Linked DNA regions of Homo sapiens: regions 1, 2 and 3 are each linked to region 4. Evidence: fine-mapped expression QTL. A gene starts in region 4. Each other region holds a variant in brackets. All regions are shown on one strand. Distances are between the middles of the regions. Region 1 overlaps SP100 (SP100 nuclear antigen). Region 2 overlaps SP100 (SP100 nuclear antigen). Region 3 overlaps SP100 (SP100 nuclear antigen). Region 4 holds the start of SP100 (SP100 nuclear antigen).

Region 1 (5,000 bases), 58 kb after region 4:
ATTTTTTTGTCAGTCCGTTTAAGCTCTGAAAATAGTTCAGCATGACCACATTGAGACAGGTTCCCTGGTTTCCTCGTCACTGTCTATAGTCTATTATTTCCTTGTTTGTCTTCATTGTCCTGTGAATTTAGAGCTCCTCCAATGAATACACAAAGAGAGTCAGAAGAGATGCAGCCCATTAGCTTGTGATGGAGAAGCCGATTATGATGTTCAGTTCATTATTAATTATCTTTTTTTTCCTACTTGCATGGAGGAAAAGTTCTTTTTTCTTTTCCTTACCTCTCCCCCAAAACATATGCACACACACATACACACCACACACACAAAGACTTGTGCACAGACTCGGGCTGCTTGCGACAGGTTTGAGGGAGCGAAAAGAAAAAGAAGAGCTGGGCTCCTGAATGGAGGGAGGAGACACTGAGTGGATAAAGTAAGGAGAAAGAATGGAGAAAGGTAGGCTAGAGTCACCAAATGAAAAGATATAAGAGTCAGCTTCAAGTTTTTCTAAGTGGACAAGGAATTCAAATATTCCAGGTAGGGGAATTTTGTGGGGGAGGGAGGGATAATTTTCAACACACTTCTCAGAAATTGTACCAGAAACGTGAAAATAAAGTTGCTGATTGATTGACAGCCTTGCAAGGTAGAAAGCTCATAAAGAACAGACAAAGGTAATAGAGATGGCTATGTGGTCAGTGTCCTAACAGCAGGCATTTGGTGATGAAAGTAATAACCTGTGAGATAAAGATGAATATAGATGAAGAAAATGTGGATAAAGACAAAGATTGAAATTGCAAAAAGAGTCAAGATCAAGATAAGGGCCAGGCGCAGTGACTCATGCCTGTAATCCCAGCACTTTGGGAGGCCGAGGTGGGCGGATCACGAGGTCAGGAGATCAAGACCATCCTGGCTAAAACGGTGAAACCCCATCTCTACTAAAAACAAAAAAAATTAGCCAGGCATGGTGGCAGGCAGCTGTAGCTCCAGCTACTCAGGAGGCTGAGGCAGGAGAATGGCGTGAACCTTGGAGGCAGGTCTTGCAGTGAACCAAGATCGCACCACTGCACTCCAGCCTGGGCGATCGAGCAAGACTCCGTCTCAAAAAAAAAAAAAAAAAAAAAAAAAGTCAAGACAAGATTCAGAGAAACAAGCTAGAAGAGAGAATAGAAGGAGGAAGTGATAGTAGAAAGAAGTTCACCTCAATAATAAAACTAGATCTAAAGATATAAACAGAAAAACAGGTGGAATGAGATACATTCAAAGGGTGATGAGTGGTGTAAAAAATTAGGTACAACAAGAAGTATGTAGAGAAAGAATTAAAAGATGAGAGAAAAATGGAGGCAAGAAGGGGGAAGTGTAAATGGGAGAGAAGAGAATGATGGAGAAATTGTAGGATCTGAAATGACCATGAGATAAAAGCAACTTTAGCACAAGGCATGATTCACAATAGCAGTAAGTTTTCAGAATAAGGTGTCCCCTGGCCCCTCTGACTCACCCAGATTAAAAAAGGCCTCACCCAGGCATTTCATCCACTCCTGTGATTTCAGTCACCACCCACAACCTCATGATTCCTACATGTGTATCTCCAGCCAGCCCTGTCTTCTAAACTCATTCATCCAAGTGTCAGAAGGCTCCTGTTGGAGATTCTGAAGGCCTTAGACTTCACCACTTGGATGTTACTCAAGACCTTCAAACTTAACACCTCCAAAACTGAGCACATCATCTTTTTCCCTAAAACCAGCCTTTGCTCCTCCAGTGTTCTTCATCACTGAAACAAACTATTAATTGACCCTTTATTTCAAGATGAAATTCTCAGGGTTATTTATGAACAGAAGGGAAAAATACAGTGAGGAACCACAAAAGAAAAAGAGATTTCAGATGTAGAGCCCATCCCTTAATTTAGCTGTGGGGAGTGGGCAGTCACTAATGTTGGGGGGAAGGAGAATCTTTGAAGGGGAGTGGGCACAAATAAAAATGTTTACAAATCACAATTTAGGATCACAGCCACAAGAACCTGAAAATAAGAAGTGCTCCTGTGTCATGTGTTTTCCAAAAGGTGTGCCAAGAAGCCAAGAAGCAAGGACTGAAAGTAGTCAAGCATCTGACATGATGG[G/A]TAAGGCTACCCTAGGGTCTTGGGATGGAAGTGGCTCAGTGGATATCACAGACACTGGGTAGGGATGTGGGAAGTGATCAGAGTTGAAGCAAAGCATGAAACAGCCTCTGGATCACCAACAGGAAGTGGGCCCACAGGCCCCAAGCTTCAGAATTTCAAAAGTCTGAAATCATAGTCCCGGTTTCCTGCTGCACTTGACTGTGAGCAGACTGTGACAAAGAACAGGTTTGGTGCCGCCAGAATCCTGTTCTCTACATTTGCTTAACCCGACCCTTTTGGGAACTGCAGGGAGGCAAGAGATCATTATAAAGCCATATTTAACAGAATGGGCTCTCTTGGTTAGGTGGTAAAAAAATACACTGGTAAACATAGTAGTATCTCACTATATTAGCATATCAATAGTAAAGTGTTGAATTTATAAAGCGAGTTCCATCCTTGTTCTTGAAAAAAAAAAAAAGAAAACATGTTCTTCCACTCACAGGTAATAGTGTCATTTTGTCACAACTTTGGAAAGGCCTAAAAAGACAAATAGTCCTGCTACCTGTCAGGAAAGAAAAATCAGATACCTACTCTTATGCTAAAAATACATTGTTTTGAAAGATATCCTCTGGACTGTTATTGATTTATATAGTGATTTCCTATTAACTCTTGCAAGTAAGATATTTAATATTCATAAAAATTTTAAAGCTGAACAGGATAACCGTTGCTGTCCCTGTTTCATAAATGAGGAAATTGGTGCATAAAAGTAATGAAGAGCTGTTTCAAAGTCTCAGAGAACTAGACGAAGACCTTAGACATCAATTCAGTGTCTGTTTCCTTTGGAAGGAAGACAGATAAATTATACTCAGAATATTGTTATAAACGCAAGCCTTCCATGCAGTGTGAATTGTCATAAGATTTATAAATTTTACTTATAAATTACAGTTCTCTGACCACTACCTGTCACTTTCTAGATACCATGGATGTTGAAAACAATTCTACTTTGGAAAAACACAGTGGGAAAAGAAGTAAGAACAAATAAGAATTTACTTAATTTTTATGTTACAAATGAACTATTTTTTAATGCTAAGGTTTATTATCATCATTTTCTTTTTTCAACTTTTATTATAGATTAAAGGGTGCATTTGCAGGTTTGTTACATGGGTAAATTGTGTGATGCTGAGGCTTGGTGTCCCAAAAATCCCATCACCCAGGCAGTAAGCATAGTACCCAACAGATGGTTCTTCAGCCCATGCCACCCTCTCCCCCTGCCCCATCTAGTGGTCCCCAGTGTCTCTTGTTCTCATCTTCACATTTATGTGTATTCGATGTTTAGCTTCCACTTGTAAGTAAGAACATGCAGTATTTGGTTTTCTGTTCTTGCATTAAGTTGCTTAGGATAATGGCCTCCGCTCCATCCATGTTGCTGCGAAGGGTGTGATTTCATTCTTTTTATGGCTGCATAGTATTTCATGGTGTATATGTGTGCCACATTTTCTTTATCCAATTCACTGTTGATGGGCAACTAGATTGGTTCCGTGTCTTTGCTTTTGTGAATAGCACTATAAGGAACATATGAGTGCGTGTATCTTTTTGATAGAACAAGTTATTTTCCTTTGGGTATATACCTAAAGGTAGTGGGATTGCTGGGTAGAATGGCATTTCTGTCTTTAAGTCTTTGAGGAATTGCCACACTGTCTTCCACAATGGTTGAACTAATTTTACCCTCCCACCAACAGTGTATGAGCATTCCTTTTCCTCCACAACCTCACCAGCATCTGTTATTTTCTTGACTTTTTAATAATAGCCACTCTGAGTAGTGTGAGATGGTATCTCACTGTGATTCTGATTTGCATTTATCTGATGATTAGTAATGTTGGGCATTTTTTTCATGTTTGTTGACCACTTGTATGTCTTCTTTTGAGAAGTGTCTGTTCATGTCCTTTGCCCATTTTTTAATTGGATTTTGTTTTTTGCTTGTTGATTTGTTTAAGTTCCTTGTAGATTCTGGATATCAGACCTTCGTTATATGCACAGTTTGCAAAAATTTTCTCCCATTCTGAAGGCTGTCTGTTTACTCTTTTGGTAATTTCTTTTGTTGTACAGAAGCTATTTAGTTTAACTGGGTCCCACTTGTCAGTTTTTGTTTGAGTTGCAATTGCTTTTGGAGACTTAGCCATAAATTCTTTGCCAAAGCCTATGTCAGGAAGGGTATTTCCTAGGTTTATTCTAGGATTTTTATAGTTTTAGGTCTTACATTTAAATCTTTAATCCATCTTGAGTTAATTTTTGTATAGGATGAGAAGTATGGGTCCAGTTTCGTTTTTCTTCGTATGTCTAGCCAGTTATTCCAGCATCATTTATTGAATAGACAGTCCATTTCCCATTGCTTATTTTTGTTGATTTTGTTGAAGATCAGATGGTTGTAAGTGAGCAGGTTTGTTTCTGAGTTCTCTGTTCTGTTCCACTGGTCTATGTGTCTGTTTTTGTACCAGTACCATGCCATTTTGATTACTGTAGCCTTATAGTATAGTTAGAAGTTGGGCAACGCGATGCCTCTAGCTTTGTTCTTTTTGTTTACAATTGCTTTGGCTATTCAGGCTCTTTTATGGTTCCAACTGAGTTTTAGAATAGATTTTTCTAATTCTGTGAAAAATGACGCTTTTATTTTAATAAGGATGGTGTTGAATCTATAAATTGATTTAAACAGTATAGTCATTCAAACTGTATTGATTCTTCCAATCCATGAGCATGGAATAATTTTCTATTTATTTGTGCTATCTCTGATTTCTTTCAGCAGTGTTTTGTACTTCTTCTTGTAGATATCTTTCACCTCCTTGGCTGGATGAATTCCTAGGGATCTCATTTTCTTTATGGCTATTGTAAATGGGACTGTGTTCTTCATTTGATT
Region 2 (5,000 bases), 42 kb after region 4:
CATGATTTTTAAATTCATTCAGCCACTCTATGTCTTTTGATTGGAGAATTTAATTTATTTACACTTAATATAATTACTGATAGGTAAGTACTTTCTAAAACCATTTTGTTTATTGTTTTCTGGTTGTCTGTAGATTCTTTATTCCTTTCTTTCTCTCTTACTGTCTTCCTTTGTGATTAGGTGATTTTCTCTAGTGATACACTTTGATTCCTCTTTATCTTTTGTGTAATCACTGTAAGTTTTTGCTTTGTGGTTAACATGAAGTTTACACAAAACATCTTATAACAGGCTATTTTAAGCTGATAACAACTTAATTTTGATTGCCTACAAAAACTGCACTTTTACTTTGCTCCCTCATTTAAAATGTTTGATGTCAGAGTTTACAAGTTTTATATAGTGTATACTCTAAAAAATTATTGTAGCTACTATTTTTTGACTATATATTTACTTTACCAGTTAGTTTTATACTTTCTTATATTTTTATATTATTAGTTAGCATTTACTTCTTTCAGCTTGAGCATTTCTTGTAAGACAGGTCTGGTGGTAATGAATGTATTCATCTTTTGTTTTCCCGGGACGGTCTTTATCTCTCCTTTATTTCTGAAAGACAGCTTTGCCAAGAAAAGTATTCTTGGTTGTCAGGTTTCTTTTTCTTCCTTTGGCACTTTGAATGTTTCATCTCATTCTCTCCTTATCTGTAAGGTTTGTGCTAAAAAGTCCACTGTTGTCCTTATTAAAACTCCCTCATATGTTAGTTGCTTCTTTTCTTTTGTTGCTTTCAGGATTCTCTCTTTGTCCTTGAATCTTGACAGCTTGATTATAGTATGTTTTGGTGTAGTCGTGTTTGCACTGAATCTGATTGGAGACCATTGACCTTCTTGTACCTGGAAATTTATGTCTTTCACCAGATTGGCAAAGCTTTATACTATTATCTCTTTAAATTAACTTTCTACTTTTGTCTTTCTCTTCCCTTTTATGAATTCCTGTGATTCAAATATTTGCTCTTTTGGTGTGTTTCATAAATCCTGTAAGCTTTCTTCATGACTTTTCATTCTCTTTTCTTTTTCTTCTCTGATTGTATTTCAAATAACCTGTCTTTGAGTTCATATTCTTTCTTCTGCATGATCAATTCTGCTGTTGATGCTCTCTGATGCCTTTTTAAATTTCATTCATTGTATTTTTCAGCTCCAGAATTTGTTTGATTTTTTAAATAATTTCAATATCTCTGTTAAACTTTCTCATTTTGGTCATTTATTGTCTCCCTAATTTTAGTGAATTGTTTCCTATATTTTCTTAAGGTTTGCTGAGATTCCTTAAAACAATTATTTTGAATTCTGCATAAGGCAGTTTGTTATCTCCATTACTTTGGGGTCTGCTATGGGGAGATTATTGTGTTCTTTTGGTCATGTTGTGTCTCTTTGGTTTTTATGTTTCTTGTTGCCTTACATTTATGTCTGTACATTTGAGAAAGTAGAAACTATTCTAGTCTTTGCAGGCTGACTTTGTCTGGGAAAGCCTTTCACCCTATTTAAAGATTCTAAGATGGCCATCTGGCATGGTACAAGGGCAGGCTTGCTGCTAGAGTCCTCAAGCAGGCTAGTCTGGTGCCTAGGACAACCAGTGGGCAGGTCTGTGCTGGGGGAAACCTTGAGCCAGAATCTGCAGGGCTCTACACCACTGATGCAGGCTTCTTCAGGCACTTCAGTAGGCATGAAGCCCAGTGCTATTGAAGCCAGCTTGCTGCTAGGATGGGCCTCAAGCCCAGTGCCACTTGGTCCAGTTTGGCACTCGGTCTGGTCTGGATCATGGGTTCACTGAGGCTGAAATAGTGCTGTAGGAGGCTGAAGACTGAGTTCGCAGGGCTGGCCTGAGTCCTGGGGCTGCAGGATTTAGGTTGGGGTCAGAGTGAGCTTGGAGGTTCAGACCATGGGTACTGGCTAGAGTCTGGGGCTTTGGGAGCTGGGTTTTACTGAAGTCGGTTCTGTGGTTTGGGTGTAAGGCAAAGTCTGGTGCTCACTTCCTTCTCCTTTCCCCAAGCATATTGTATCTTGCTCA[A/G]TGCTGTGCTTCCTGGAGTTGGGGAAGATGACACAGTGAAACTTTTCTTCCTGCCCTTTTCAATGTGCTCTTTCTTATTTCTGTGTTTCACTCAGGTGCTGTGATCTTTCATCTGGTTTCCTCAGCTCTTGCAAAGGTATTTTCATGCATAGGTCGTTGTTCACATCAGTGTTTCTGCAGGGGATGGAGGGCTGGAGAGTCCTATTCTCCCATCTTGCTCTACTTCTCCCCAATTTTCTAATTATATCTTTATTTTTCTATAAGGGCAAAACTTCCCTTTGTTTTCTCATACTAACTGCCTACACTCATCCAAGACACACAGACTTTGTTCACAGCCTCTGGCTGCTTTTAACAGGTATGAGATGGAAGGGAAAAAGAGAGTGAGTCTTTTTAACAGAGGGACTGTCCCTGGTTAGAGAATGCAAGAAGAAAGAATACAAAAGAGGTCAACTAGGGAATATTAAATAACAAAACACAGTTGACCCCTGGACACTGTGGGAGGTTAGGGGTACCAATGCCCCATGCAGTCAAACATTTGCACATAACTTTTACATTCCCCAAAACTTAACAACTGCTGTTGACCAGAAGCCTTACTGATAACATAAACAGATGATAACACATATTTTCCATACGTATTATGTGCTGTATTCTCACAATGAAGTAAGATCTCCAAAGGAAAATGTTATTAATACAATCATAAGGAAGAGAAAATATATTTACTATTCATTAAGTGGCAATAGGTAATCATAAAGACCTTCATCCTCATCATTGAGTAGTTTGAGAAGGAGGAAGGAGAGGAGGGGTTGGCCTTGCTGTCTGAGGGGTGGCAGAGGTGGAAGAAAATCTGCATACAAGTGGACTCATGTAGTTCAAGCCCCTGTTGTTGAAGGGTCAACTGTGTATGAGTGAGACAGATTTTAGATAAAGTGACATGGTATCCATACATTGTCATGTTGTGGAGTTGTTGAATAGAAATATGTTGCAAGTTACTTTTCAGAAGTTATCATGAAAACGTAGAAATTATGCATGATGCTGCTTGTCAGATTTGCAAAGGAAGGAAGCCCAGGTGAAAGACCTTCAGGAAGGAATGGCAAGTGGAGGGCCTCTGGTGTGGTAGACAATGGCACTGGAAGAGACCTTTCGTAATGATGGGAATGTTTGAGATGAGGAAGATATAGAAAGACAAAAAGTGATATAGCACTCACACATCAGATGCGAAAGTATTTTTGAAAAAAAAGTGACATAGAAGAAGCTTGCAGAGGTAACGTTAATAATTAAGAAATAAGGGCCGACTCAAAGCAGGTAGGAAATGTAACAGAGATGCAACATTACATATGGGACAACAGGCCTGGCACGAGGTGAGGCAGGGAGGCCCCCAGGGCACAGCATGTAAGGAGACCTCACTTGGCATGTGAGACTGAGCTTCCTTAAATTTCAAGGCACCCCATAGCACCACCTTCACCTCACCCTGGTTCTGTCTCTAAGAGACAATAATTTTTAAAAAGTGTAGATAAAAAGACTATGAATAGAAAAAACATAGAGGGAAATAAATACCAAGAAATAGGAAAAATGGAGGGAGGCACAAAGAGAAGTATGCAGAAAATGAGTTAAAGGACAATGAATGAAAAATTGGTAGAGAGTGGATCATGCAAAGAAGGGAAGAGAGAAGACAAATCAAGACATTCTCTGATCTGAGGAGATAAGAGCTAGAAAGGAGGCACAGGGTGTCCTATTACTATGGAGAAAGATCAGCTGCCCTCTTATCAAAATGGCCCCTGTGACTCCACCTCCACCCCCAGATTACAATAAGCCTCTCCTCAGGCATCACTTCCTCTCCATGGCTCAATCACCATCTAAGATCTGTTGATTTCTAAACATACATCTCCAGCTCAGACCTGTCCTGTTGACTCCCTTCCCCAATTGCCTGAAGACCTTTATTTAAAGACCTGAAGAACATCTCTCTTTGGAAGCTGCATCTGTCATCTATTGCTGTGTCATGTAACAAACTATCCTGAAACTTAGTGGCTTAAAACAATCATCATTTCATTTGCCACTTGTGTCAATCCCAACTTTAAAATATCTCTAACTTGTCCATTTCTCTTCATCCCCAGCACGAACACCCTAATCTAGACCCCTGTCACTCTCACTAAAATTAGAGGAACAGTCTCCTGTCTGGCCCCCAGTCTTGCTCCTCTCAAGTCTGCACTTCAGTTGAATGGACTTTTCCAAAATAGAAACCAGTTGATATGACTTTCCTGTTTGAAACCCAGTGCCTTCGTGTGGCCCTTAGCAGTAGATCAACACTGCTTGGAGTGGTGAATTGAAGGATGTCTACCACGCACCTGCGCGTTCCCCGTCACCCACCTCTCGCCCTTTCATGCCACATTCCCACCACACTAAGCTTCCTTTACTTACTGGAATTTGCCAAGCTCTCTTTCTTTCATCTCTGCCTTTATATATGCTTTTGGGAAAACAGTTTGGGGTAATCTTCCAAAGGTGAAAATATACATACCCTATAACCCAACAATTATATTCCTCAGCAGAAACCAACAGAAATGTGTGTTATGTCACCAAAACACATAGAAAAGAATGCTCAAGGCAGCATTATTCATAGAAGCCAAATGCTTGAAATTGTACAAATGAATAAATAATTCATGGCTTATTTCTATAATGGAATACTATCTAGTAGTGAAAATAATTATACAAAACGAATACAGATGACTTTCACAAGCATGTTGAGTAAAATATCCATACAATTTTGGGGGATTTGGCTTCTTTTGGGAGATCTATATATATTGAGAGAGAGGTAAAGGGAGAAAGAAAGAGTGGAGAGAAAAGAGATTATTCCATTTTTATAAATTACACAACAAGCAAAATTAACCTTAGTGTTGGAAACCTCAATGGTAGTTGTCTTTGAGCAAGTTAGTGGAAACAGTTAATGGGAA
Region 3 (5,000 bases), 120 kb after region 4:
TAGGAAGTAATAACTACTGGACACTAAATCACAGTGTTTGTGACATGTCACAGAAAATGATAGGACTTTCTGCAGCATAAATGTCCTCTTAACCAATCCTTGTGCTGTTAAGTTACAGGGCTTTAACTTCTGGGTCTGAAAAAGGCACCTACTTCTGCTAAATCTTGAACATTACCCTAGTTTAAGCCTCATCTTCAGACCTGGGAGAAAATGACAGTCAAAATGAACTGCTTTCATGAGACACTGGGCCAGAAATTAAAACTATTCAATCTGTCTAGGCCAAGGGACTGTCATGGCAGATGTGGACATGTGAGATTTGAGGGTTTTCTATAAATTAAATATTAATATCAAAAGCACACTGATTCAAGGCCAGAGTCTAGGCCCATGTGTCAGAATAACAGCATTTTCCTGGAGCATTAATCGGCTCTTTAATAGAAGATTGTAAAAGGTTTATGGAGATCTTACTCTACAAACAAACTGATAAAATTAAAATTGTTTATAAGGTTTTAAAAATTACTTTTAATATTAGTAATACACTATACAAAGGTGAAATTTGGTTTTCTCTTTTGAACAAAATTTTCATATGAGAGCTAATGAAATATTTTTATTTACCTTTTGAATAACTACAGGGTGCAAAAAAAGGAGGAAAAAGACATTTAGGTGGCCTCATGCTGTCTTTATTAGGTTTCATTGTTTGGGAAACTGAGTCTACTCCCTAGAAAAGGGTAAATGTCAGCGGGTGCGGTGGCTCACGCCTGTAATCCCAGCACTTTGGGAGGCTGAGGTGGGTGGATCAGGAGGTCAGGAGATTGAGACCATCCTGGCTAACATGGTGAAACTCCATCTCTACTGAAATACAAAAAATTAGCCGGGCGTGGTGGTGGGCACCTGTAGTCCCAGCTACTCGGGAGGCTGAGGCAGGAGAATGGCATGAACCCAGGAGGCGGAGGTTGCAGTGAGCTGAGATTGCACCAGTGCATTCCAGCCTGGGTGACAGAGCGAGACTCCGTCTCAAAAAAAAGAGAAGTCTTAGCTAAATCAATGACTACTTTACAGTGACCTGTGATCCTATTTTGTAATATCAAATGTCTTAAAACTTTGATATTTGACAGACTTTCCAAGAGTAAAAATTTCAAGTTCTAAATTCGGCCTTTTTGACCTCAAACTAACTTATTTGCACATTAGGTTCCCTGAAGTTCAAGAGAGACATACTAGACTTATTGACTTATTTGTTACATTAGAATTATGCAGAAAGCGTTGTCACATCTGAGGTGGTGGTCAACTTCTTTTGGGTTATATTTATATAGATGTGTTGTTAATATGTGTTCCAGGATTGTATGATTCTTGCATGTTTTAATATATGCCATCAGTAATAATTATGCTTATTATGTTGAATTGTTATATGTCACAGAAATAACCAAATTTCCTCATCAACTGTGTCTTTAACTATGGCTTGCTTAAGAGTTTTGACATCCACTATTGTTATTTTGCATTGATTCTTCTCAAAAAGTAACATATAATCAGCCGGGCATGGTGGCTCACGCCTGTAATCCCAGCACTTTGGGAGGCCAAGACGGGTGGATCACAAGGTCAGGAGTTCGAGACCACCCTGGCCAAGATGGTGAAACCCCGTCTCTACTAAAAATAAAAAAAATTAGCCGGGCATGGTGGCAGGCACCTGTAGTCCCAGCTACTCGGGAGTCTGAGGCAGGAGAATTCCTTGAACCTGGGAGGTGGAGGTTGCAGTGAGCCGAGATTGTGCCACTGCACTCTAGCCTGGGCGACAGAGTGAGACTCCATCTCAAAAAAAAAAAAGTATCTTATAATCAGCTACAGTCCATGGTTTGCTTCTTTGGGGGAGTTCATGAAAAGGACTTTTGAATGTAGGTTTCTGATGACTTTGGAGGTTGTTTCATTAGATTAGAGAGAGAAAACGTCCAAGAAACTAACTGAAAAACTGATACATTCATAAAATTTACTAACCTAATATGAAGCAGAGCAGGAGTTAGTTGCCTACACTGAACAAATGGAGGCCAGAAATAATTTCTTATGGATTTTTTTTGTTTGAAACATTGCTGCCTTTAACAATTGAGAGGAGCATTACTCTTGTAAACTAAGTTTGAGGCATATTTCTCTCTCTCTCTGCCTAATTTCTCCAGAATTCATAAACTATTTGTGAATATTATTAATTCATGGCAATGTGTTTGCGTATGTTTAATAAGAATCTGTTTTCTGCTGGGTGTGTTGGCTCATGCCTGTAATCCTAGCACTTTGGGAGGCCAAGGCAGGTGGATCACTTGAGGTCAGGGGTTTGAGTCCAGCCTGCCAACATGGTGAAACCCCGTCTCTACTAAAAATACAAAAATTAGCCAGGAGTGGTGGTGCATGCCTGTCGTCCCAGCTACTCGGGAGGCTGAGGCAGGAGGATCACTTGAACCTGGGAGGTGGAGGCTGCAGGGAGCCAAGATCATGCCACTCCACTCCAGCCTGGGTGACAGAGCAAGACTCCATCTCAAAAAAAAAAAAAAAAAAAAAAAAAAAAAGAATATGTTTTCTTTTATAATGAGACACAGTTGGAGGAACTGGTCATTTTCCCAGGGCTTTGACTGAAATGGCCTTGTGAGAGGTTCCAGCAAAGCCAGTTTAAGATAGCCTACATGGACAATGGTTCTTGCTGCACTTTGTGTGGGCAAATAAGCCAAGTATATGGGACTGAAGCTTATTTGGCAGGTAGGTTGGTCCTGCTGTGATTTGTCTTTAGTGGAAGTGGGAGACTGGAGAGAAAAAGAGTGTGTTTCAGAAGAAACCTATAGTATTCAGTTAACTTTTGATTTTTGGGTGGCTATGTGGGTCACCCATGGTATGGATTTGCCCA[C/T]GACACTCCTCATCAGCATGAAACAGCCAGAAAGATTGACAACCAGTTCCCCATGATTGAGGAATTGATAAACAGAAAAGGGGCACTGAAATGAACCCAATTGTCCCATAAATCTGATTTTTACAGTTTATTTTGAATAAACATAGAAATTGACCCTCTCAGTCTTAAAACTTGAGAGAGTTACATTTGTCTTATCTGAGTTCTTTCTCAGGAAACCAACCGTCAGACCCCCACATAACATCAAGGGACTGAAACTCACCAGATTACTGTATTTGGACAATGAGATGCCAAACTCCTCACCCCTTATGACTGCCTAACCAATAATCTCCTTCCTGTTAACCAATTCCTCCTTACCACTCCCTAATTCCTGCTTCCCTGAATATAGATACATTTCTGCTATATAAACCCCTAACTTTAGTGAGTCAGGGAGACAGATTTCAGACTGATCTCTCATCCCCTTGGCTGCAGCACCCGACTAAAGCCTTCTTGCTTGGCAATACTCATTGTCTCAGTGATTGGCTTTCTGCGTGGCAAGCAGCAGGACCTAAACTGAACCCCTGGTATTTCAATAACAAAATCATGGGTGACTTCCCTGTCTAAACAAAGTCACATTTTGATTCTTTTCATTGCAATGAGATGAGCATTTTAGGCAGGGTCAGCCTTTTGCACAACTGCAAGGAGCACCTTTTGCTGTAAGAATGCCATGTAAGCTAGGCACAGTGATTCATGCCTGCAATCCTAGCACTTTGGGAGGCTGAGGCAAGAGGATCACTTGAACCCATGAGTTTGAGACCAGCCTGGGCAACATGGCAAAACCCCACCTCCACAAAAAATACCAAAAATTAGTCAGGCATGGTGGGACACACCTGTAGTCCCAGCTACTCCAGGGGCTGAGGTGGTAGGATTACTTAAGTCCAGGAAGTTGAGGCTGCAGTGAGCTGTGATCGCACCACTGCACTCCAGCCGAGGTGACAGAGTGAGACCCTGTCTCAAAACAAAAATGCCATGCAGCTGGACTGGTACAGGACACTAATTGAGAGGGGATAGAAAAGAAGTTGCCATGCCCTCTATTTTCTTAGCCAATGCTCTTCCCTAGCAAGATCTAGATCAATCCACACTGTTTCTGTTTCTTTGCTGGAGGTGAGACCCTTCAGTAGTCAAACAGCTCTCATCTCTGGGGTCTGCATAACTTGTTTGATGACTAAGGGAGACCCATAGGGCCATTTCTTACAGCCCACAGCCAAGCCCTCTGTGAAGAGGAAAAGGCAACTCTTCCAGCAAGGAAGTCCTCACCCCTTTTCAAAAACTTTCCTAGACAAACTTGTAGGCTGTTAATGACTCTAGTTATGACCTCCCAGCCCTTACTCAGGAGAAACCACTTTGTAATGTGGGTTTTCAACCTTGGCTGCACGTTGCAATCACCTGGGGATCCCCCGCAACCGCCTGACAAAGATTCTGATGTTATTGGTCTGAGGTGCTGCCTGAGAATTGGTGTTTCCAAAGCTCCTCTGGTGTTTTGTGTTTTTCTAGCACAAGAAAAGTTGTGAGTCACTGTAGTGCAATACAGTTCGATCACAATTGCCACAATTGTGTAGGGTCCATCAGAACCACCTGAAGGGCTTCATAGACCACAGCTGGCTAGGAGCTACCCCTAGGCTTCTGATTCAGCAAGTGAGAGGCAGAGCCCAAGGCTGTATATTTCTAACAAGTTCCAGGTGCTGCTGCTGCTGGTCCAGAGACCACTGCATTAGAGGCCAGAGTTCTCAACTATTGACTGCACATTAGAACCATCTGGACAATATTTAAGACATACTGATGCCTATACACCAACCCAGACTAACTGAATCAAAATCTCTGGTAATGGGGCTCCAGAGATGTTTTTTAATGCTCCCAGGGGATTCTACTGTAGAGCAAGTTGAGAACCACTTGTAAGCAAAAGAAAAAAATTCTTACTAAAAAGGTTAAAGAGACATACACCAAGTTTGCAGGCTTTCTAGACAATGGAACTTCAAACATAGGATTTGCCTGTGGTATTTATTCTTTCTTGGGGCCCACTTGCAGTGTACTTTATAGGATGATGTATCAGAAACCTTGACCCAGCAGCCTAAAAATAGTGGTCAGCATC
Region 4 (5,219 bases):
AAGTACACTCCACAGTGTGGGAGCAGGCCCAAGCAGTATTCAACGGTCCCGCATACAGAATCTTCTCTGGTCCAAATACCCCCTGGAGGTTTCCCATTGACCACTTGGTGCTCACCTCATGTAAATGAAGTGGCGGCCTGCAATCAGTCTGATTGGTTGAGGAAAGCAACCAACCAGAGGCTGAAGTGAAGTTACAAAGGTCACACTCCTGTGCAAACATCTCATTGGTTGCAGAAAGCAACCAATCAGAGGCTAAAGTGAAATTACAAAGTTGTACTTCTATGCAAAGGAAGACTTGGCCTGCAATCAGTCTGATTGGTTGCAGACAGCAACCCATCAGAGGCTGAAGTAAAGTTACAAAGTTACACTCCTATGCAAAAAACAACTATACACAGGTACTTTCCATTTCCCATTGCCCCACAGAAAAGGTGGGGGTTTGCAAAGGGAGTAGCCTCTGGACCTTTTGTTACTTAGGCATGGAAAGTTAGGGTTTTCCTTTCAATTTAGTTCTAGGAAGTTAGCATGAAATGGCCTTAGGTTCCCTGCCTCCAGACCCTATTCTCCTGCCTCACCCACACCACTGAAGTCTGAACTGAAGCTGCTCTTGGTGAAATGTAAGAGGCCCATCATCTGGCTGGGTGCCCTGCCTGTGGTCCTTCCTCAATCACTGCCTCCCCTGCTTTTGAGTTTTCCAGGCTCCAGTAACTGGAACTACTTCTTGACAACAGAAATATTCCCTATTGCCTGTGCTCCTTGCAGCCATGGAAAATGCCCCAGGAGTTCCATTATTTCCTTCTAAACAGTCCAGCAGGATTTTTAGCTCACATGTCTTCTTAATGTGGTCCCGTCCCTTTCCCAACCCCAGTGTGTCTGACATTGTTTTCTGGATCAGAGAAACTTTGCTTTCTTCACAGAGGCCTACAGATTCTCCATATACCAGCGGAGCATGGTGCATGCTCATCTGTCTCCAACCTCATCTGATGAGAACATCTCCTTCCCTGCTGCCAGGAGGTGCCCCAGCATGGGCATGTCTGCCCGTGAAGTTCAACCCGTAAGGAATTCCCTGCCAGCCTGTGGCTCATTGGTCTGGAATTCCAGGTGCTGCTCTTAGTAGCCCCTAAGCACATCCAGGGAAAAGCTGGCACGTTTATGTCAGTGCCACTCAATGGCCTGAGCCTGCCTGCTGCCCAGAGGCAGCGAGAGGGGAGAACGTGAACCACACCAAAGCATACTGTGTGGTCCATGCCAGGACTTCTTGGGACCAATGTGCCTCATGGAGACTGGGATCAAAGGACAGCTGTGCCCAAAAGAGGCTCAGCTTACCAGCCCTTCAGCCCCATAAAGTCGGGGAGTCATGGGGGGTAGGAAGAATGAGAGAAAGAGAGAGAGACCTACAGGTGAGAGAAAGAGAGAGAGACCTACAGGTGTGCAGTGCCTGATAGAAACAGTGACCTTCGCCCACCGGCAAAGCTGTCCTCACCAATGTCCTGGTGCCTGGTCATTCACTCATGGGGAAAAGAAGAGCAGAAGTAGAGTGAGGGTAGAAAGCCCCTTCCCCCACATTTTCAAATGTACCTGGACAAGCATCCTTATTCACAGCTGGAAGAAGTTGGATTCAGTAGAATGCCATTTGGAAAACACCGTTCTGAAGTGCCATCCCCTCTGGCCCCTGAATCCTCACCAGCTTCCACCCTCTGCTCACCTTGGGCCCTGGATTCCAGCGCCCCCAGGCTCCCAGCTGCCTCCCTGTCTCTGCCCCATGGTCCGGCCTGGAGTTCTGGTCCCTGGTTGTGTCCTGTGGCCCCATTCTCATGCGCCCTTTGCTTCTGTTTCTTTACCTATGACTTTATACTGATGTAAAGCGAGTCTTCTCGGTCGCTTCTTGTTCTCTGAGGAATGATGAATCAGAATCTAAATGGAAAATCTGGGCAGAGATAGAACCTCCCGCGGGAGCCACCCTGCCCTTCCATGTCTAGATCATCTGGGTTCCAACCTCCATCCTCCTCCAATGAGAAGCTTTTGTTCTCTCAAGATTCCAGTGACTTCTCCGAAGCTTAGGTGTCTCTTCACCCCTGGCTGTTCCAAGGCGGCCCCATAGTCAAGATTCCTTAAACCCTTGCCCCTTAAAATGTTTGCCTTTCTTACCATGCTGGCTCCAGCCTCTGGTCCCAGGGGTGTGGAGAGTTCTCTCTTACTTCTGGCTGATTTCCAGGAAGGCTAAGCACACTCTCCCCAGGTTATAATGCTGAGCATTTTGGTTCTCTCCAGCCCTGGGTCCCAATGTCAGGACCTACCTTAGTCCAGTCCATGCTCTCCCATGGGCCTGAGAGAAGATTTGAGGTTTCTGGCTTTCCCTCCAACCCTCCAACTCCCACCCCAAGCCATGTCAGCAAGGGGAAGGGGCAAACATGGAGTTTCCCCCCCAACTCCCATGTAAACTATGCCCCCTCTTAGAGGGCAGAGCAGCTAAGGACAATTTTGTTTCAAGGACATTTTTTTTGGCTGTGTATTGCACAAACAAGTGGACACCCGGGAGCTGGCCCTGCTCGTCCCCTGGGCCCTCCTTCCCTGGTCCTGCAGGTCTTGCTGCTTGTCAGGCCTCTCCTCCAACCCTCTGCCACATTTCAGAAAAGCTGAGAATCCCTTGGAGTGAAAAAGGAGGAGAAACACAGTGTCCGTAGCCCAGAAGGAGGTTAAATACTTTCACTTCTCTTTTCCCCATTTGGGCGGAGCCCTTTCTGAGTCAGTCTGTCGGCCGACTTCCTGCTTGGGGCCTGGGCAGCCACACTGCACGCAGGCTGGGCCGACTGAGGGGCTCAGAGGCCAGGCTCTGAGGCCCACGCAGGGCCTAGGGTGGGAAGATGGCAGGTGGGGGCGGCGACCTGAGCACCAGGTGAGTCTTTATCTCCCTTCCTTTAACCTTTATCTCTGGCTATATTGCAGCTTTCATGCCTTTAGTTCAGTTTGTGCCTAAGGCTTCACTTTAATCCTTCTTTGCAAGAACATAGGTATGCGATGTTATATAATGAAATGAAAGACAAGTAATGAGGAAATCAGATTTTTTAAACAGGAGCAGGACAGCTGTTGGTGTGAGTTCAACTTGCCATAACACACGTGACTTTCTTGTTTTGGATTTACTGCTCAGCTGACCGGGACACTCTAAACATAGCAGTTGTTGGTGGCTGGGATTAACTATTTCCTCATGATCTGTGAACCCTTTCACCCCTCAGCCTTCCTCTACCTTCAAATATGTCATGTCAAAAAAGGTGCTTTAGAAAATAAACACTCCAGGGTAAACACCTGGCTTACTTTTAAACATCAGACGCTGTGGTCTCACCTGTCCTGGCAAGGGGCCTCTGCCGGCTGTTCCCATGACTGGCTCAGGGTCTGAGTTCTTATTCCATCAACCTTGATCAAAAGAAGGAAAGGGAAGAAAAAGGCCCAGGGTGACAAACGGCTAAATATTTTCATTTTTACCTCAATTTCCTGTCCCAAGATGGGGGATACCTCTGACCAGAAAAGAGAAGGAAATCCTAACTTTTCTCTAGTAGTGAGTTGAGAAATAACATTACTTAATCTTTTAAATTTTTTAATACAAAAGAAATACACTGTACATTATTGTTCATAAAATTTAAAACAGTGGAGAAGTATATTAAGGAAAAAGTCATCTTTGCCACTCAGCCATTCTTGTAGCTTCTCTTCCCAGTCCTGTGAAGAGTCTTGGGCACAGCTTTTCTTATATTTTTCTATGCATTTATATATCTAATGCATTTTTTGTAAATACGTAATTTATGTTCTTGATTTATAATAAATTATATTACATGTGCTAGTCTGCATTTTGCATTTTTACTTATTTTAATAGTGGAAAACTTAGAGATCTTTTAACCTTAATACATATAGATCTGCCTCATTCTTTTTATACATGCTATTCCATAGAATTGATATATGATAATTATTTATTCTCCAATTGAAGGACATTTAGATTGTTTTTAAATTGTTCACATTTACCAATAAGCTATCATAACAATGATTATATATTTCTTTTTGGGTTTTTACATCTAAACAAATATTTATCTTGTCTCTAAACCTTAAAAATGTAATTATTGAGGCAAAGGGTCCAGTTATTTACTTGGTCCTGCCAAATTGTCTTTCTAGGAGGCTGAATGAATGTATTTCACCAGTAGCAAATGAGATGAACCATCTTCCTGCACACAGCCACGATTTGCAAAGGTGATGAATGAAGAGTTATGTCTTGTTTTAATTTGTATTTTCCTTACGATGGGAAAATTGATCAGCTTTTCATGTTTCTTGGCCATTTAAATTCCCTCTTCTATAAATTGCTTGTTTGTTTTTTGCCAATATGATTCCGTTGAGGTGTTTGTCCTTTTTTTCGTGATATGGGAGAATTCACTAAATATTCTGTAAGTATAAATATACTTTTCTTGTCCATTACCTTTGTCTATGGTGACTTTTATCTTATTAAAGCTTAAAACTTAACATATAGGCCTCTTGTGATACAGATTTTTTTAAGATAGATGCACCCTTGTTATAAACGAGGTGATGCTGACACCCTCTGTGAGCACTCTTAGTTTTTACAATTATTTCTGTGTTAAGGTGGCAGATTCGCTGCTACCGCTATTCCAGGAAGAGTTCCTCCTCTAATATCTCTGAAAATTTTTTAAATTTTTAAACAAAAATATTCTTACATTGGAGCCACTTTAGCCTTCACAGCTTTTATTTGCCCCGTTTTCATCTTTTCAGTCTTTCACTTTGTGTTCATAATAGTTGTCTCAAACTTTTCCTCCATGACAATTATTTACCTTCTAGTAGGTTTCTTGTTTCTTGTCATTTCTAATTTTTTAAAAATTGATAGTGTTTATTTTTGAGGAGGGATCTTAATTGGTTTCTGTACGCCTGCAAGCTCCATAACCTCTTGTCATTCAGTCTTCACAGTCTTGCTTTATTTAGGTTTGCCTGTGCTGTTAAGAACTTTGGGATATTCTCCTTGTTGTCTCTTAGTTATTTTTCCAGACTGATTCTGTCTGATCTTGTGTTCCACGTGCCTGTGGTGGCTTTACAGCTCCTCTAGCCAGGCTTGGCCAGGGCAGGTCACCCCAAACTTCCCGTTTGCTTAGTCATAATCTGGATGAACTTTTTTTCTTTTTTTTTTTAACATTCCCTGTTTTATCTGAGATCAAATTGTTTTTTGTCTGAGCTAC

The links.
Region 1: its variant is fine-mapped to the expression of SP100 in whole blood (TOPMed, PIP above 0.99).
Region 2: its variant is fine-mapped to the expression of SP100 in whole blood (TOPMed, PIP above 0.99).
Region 3: its variant is fine-mapped to the expression of SP100 in whole blood (TOPMed, PIP above 0.99).

The regions. Positions count from the first base shown.
Region 1 is chr2:230,471,331-230,476,330 of GRCh38, forward strand. SP100 (SP100 nuclear antigen) reads left to right here. Exons shown (of 29, transcript NM_001080391.2): 16 at 1,994-2,110; 17 at 3,064-3,117. The region is part of intron 3 of LOC101928816 (a long non-coding RNA gene); the gene reads right to left. Among named protein-coding and RNA genes, the nearest start is that of SP100, 58 kb to the left of the region's middle. The variant G/A (reference allele first, on the strand shown) is at 2,111.
Region 2 is chr2:230,455,553-230,460,552 of GRCh38, forward strand. The region is part of intron 8 of SP100 (SP100 nuclear antigen); the gene reads left to right. All of the region lies in intron 3 of LOC101928816 (a long non-coding RNA gene), which reads right to left. Among named protein-coding and RNA genes, the nearest start is that of SP100, 42 kb to the left of the region's middle. The variant A/G (reference allele first, on the strand shown) is at 2,056.
Region 3 is chr2:230,533,393-230,538,392 of GRCh38, forward strand. All of the region lies in intron 24 of SP100 (SP100 nuclear antigen), which reads left to right. Among named protein-coding and RNA genes, the nearest start is that of SP100, 120 kb to the left of the region's middle. The variant C/T (reference allele first, on the strand shown) is at 2,876.
Region 4 is chr2:230,413,436-230,418,654 of GRCh38, forward strand. It overlaps SP100 (SP100 nuclear antigen), which reads left to right and starts at 2,766. Exons shown (of 29, transcript NM_001080391.2): 1 at 2,766-2,893; 2 at 4,156-4,230. The coding sequence starts at 2,862. RefSeq lists an enhancer at 2,413-2,932.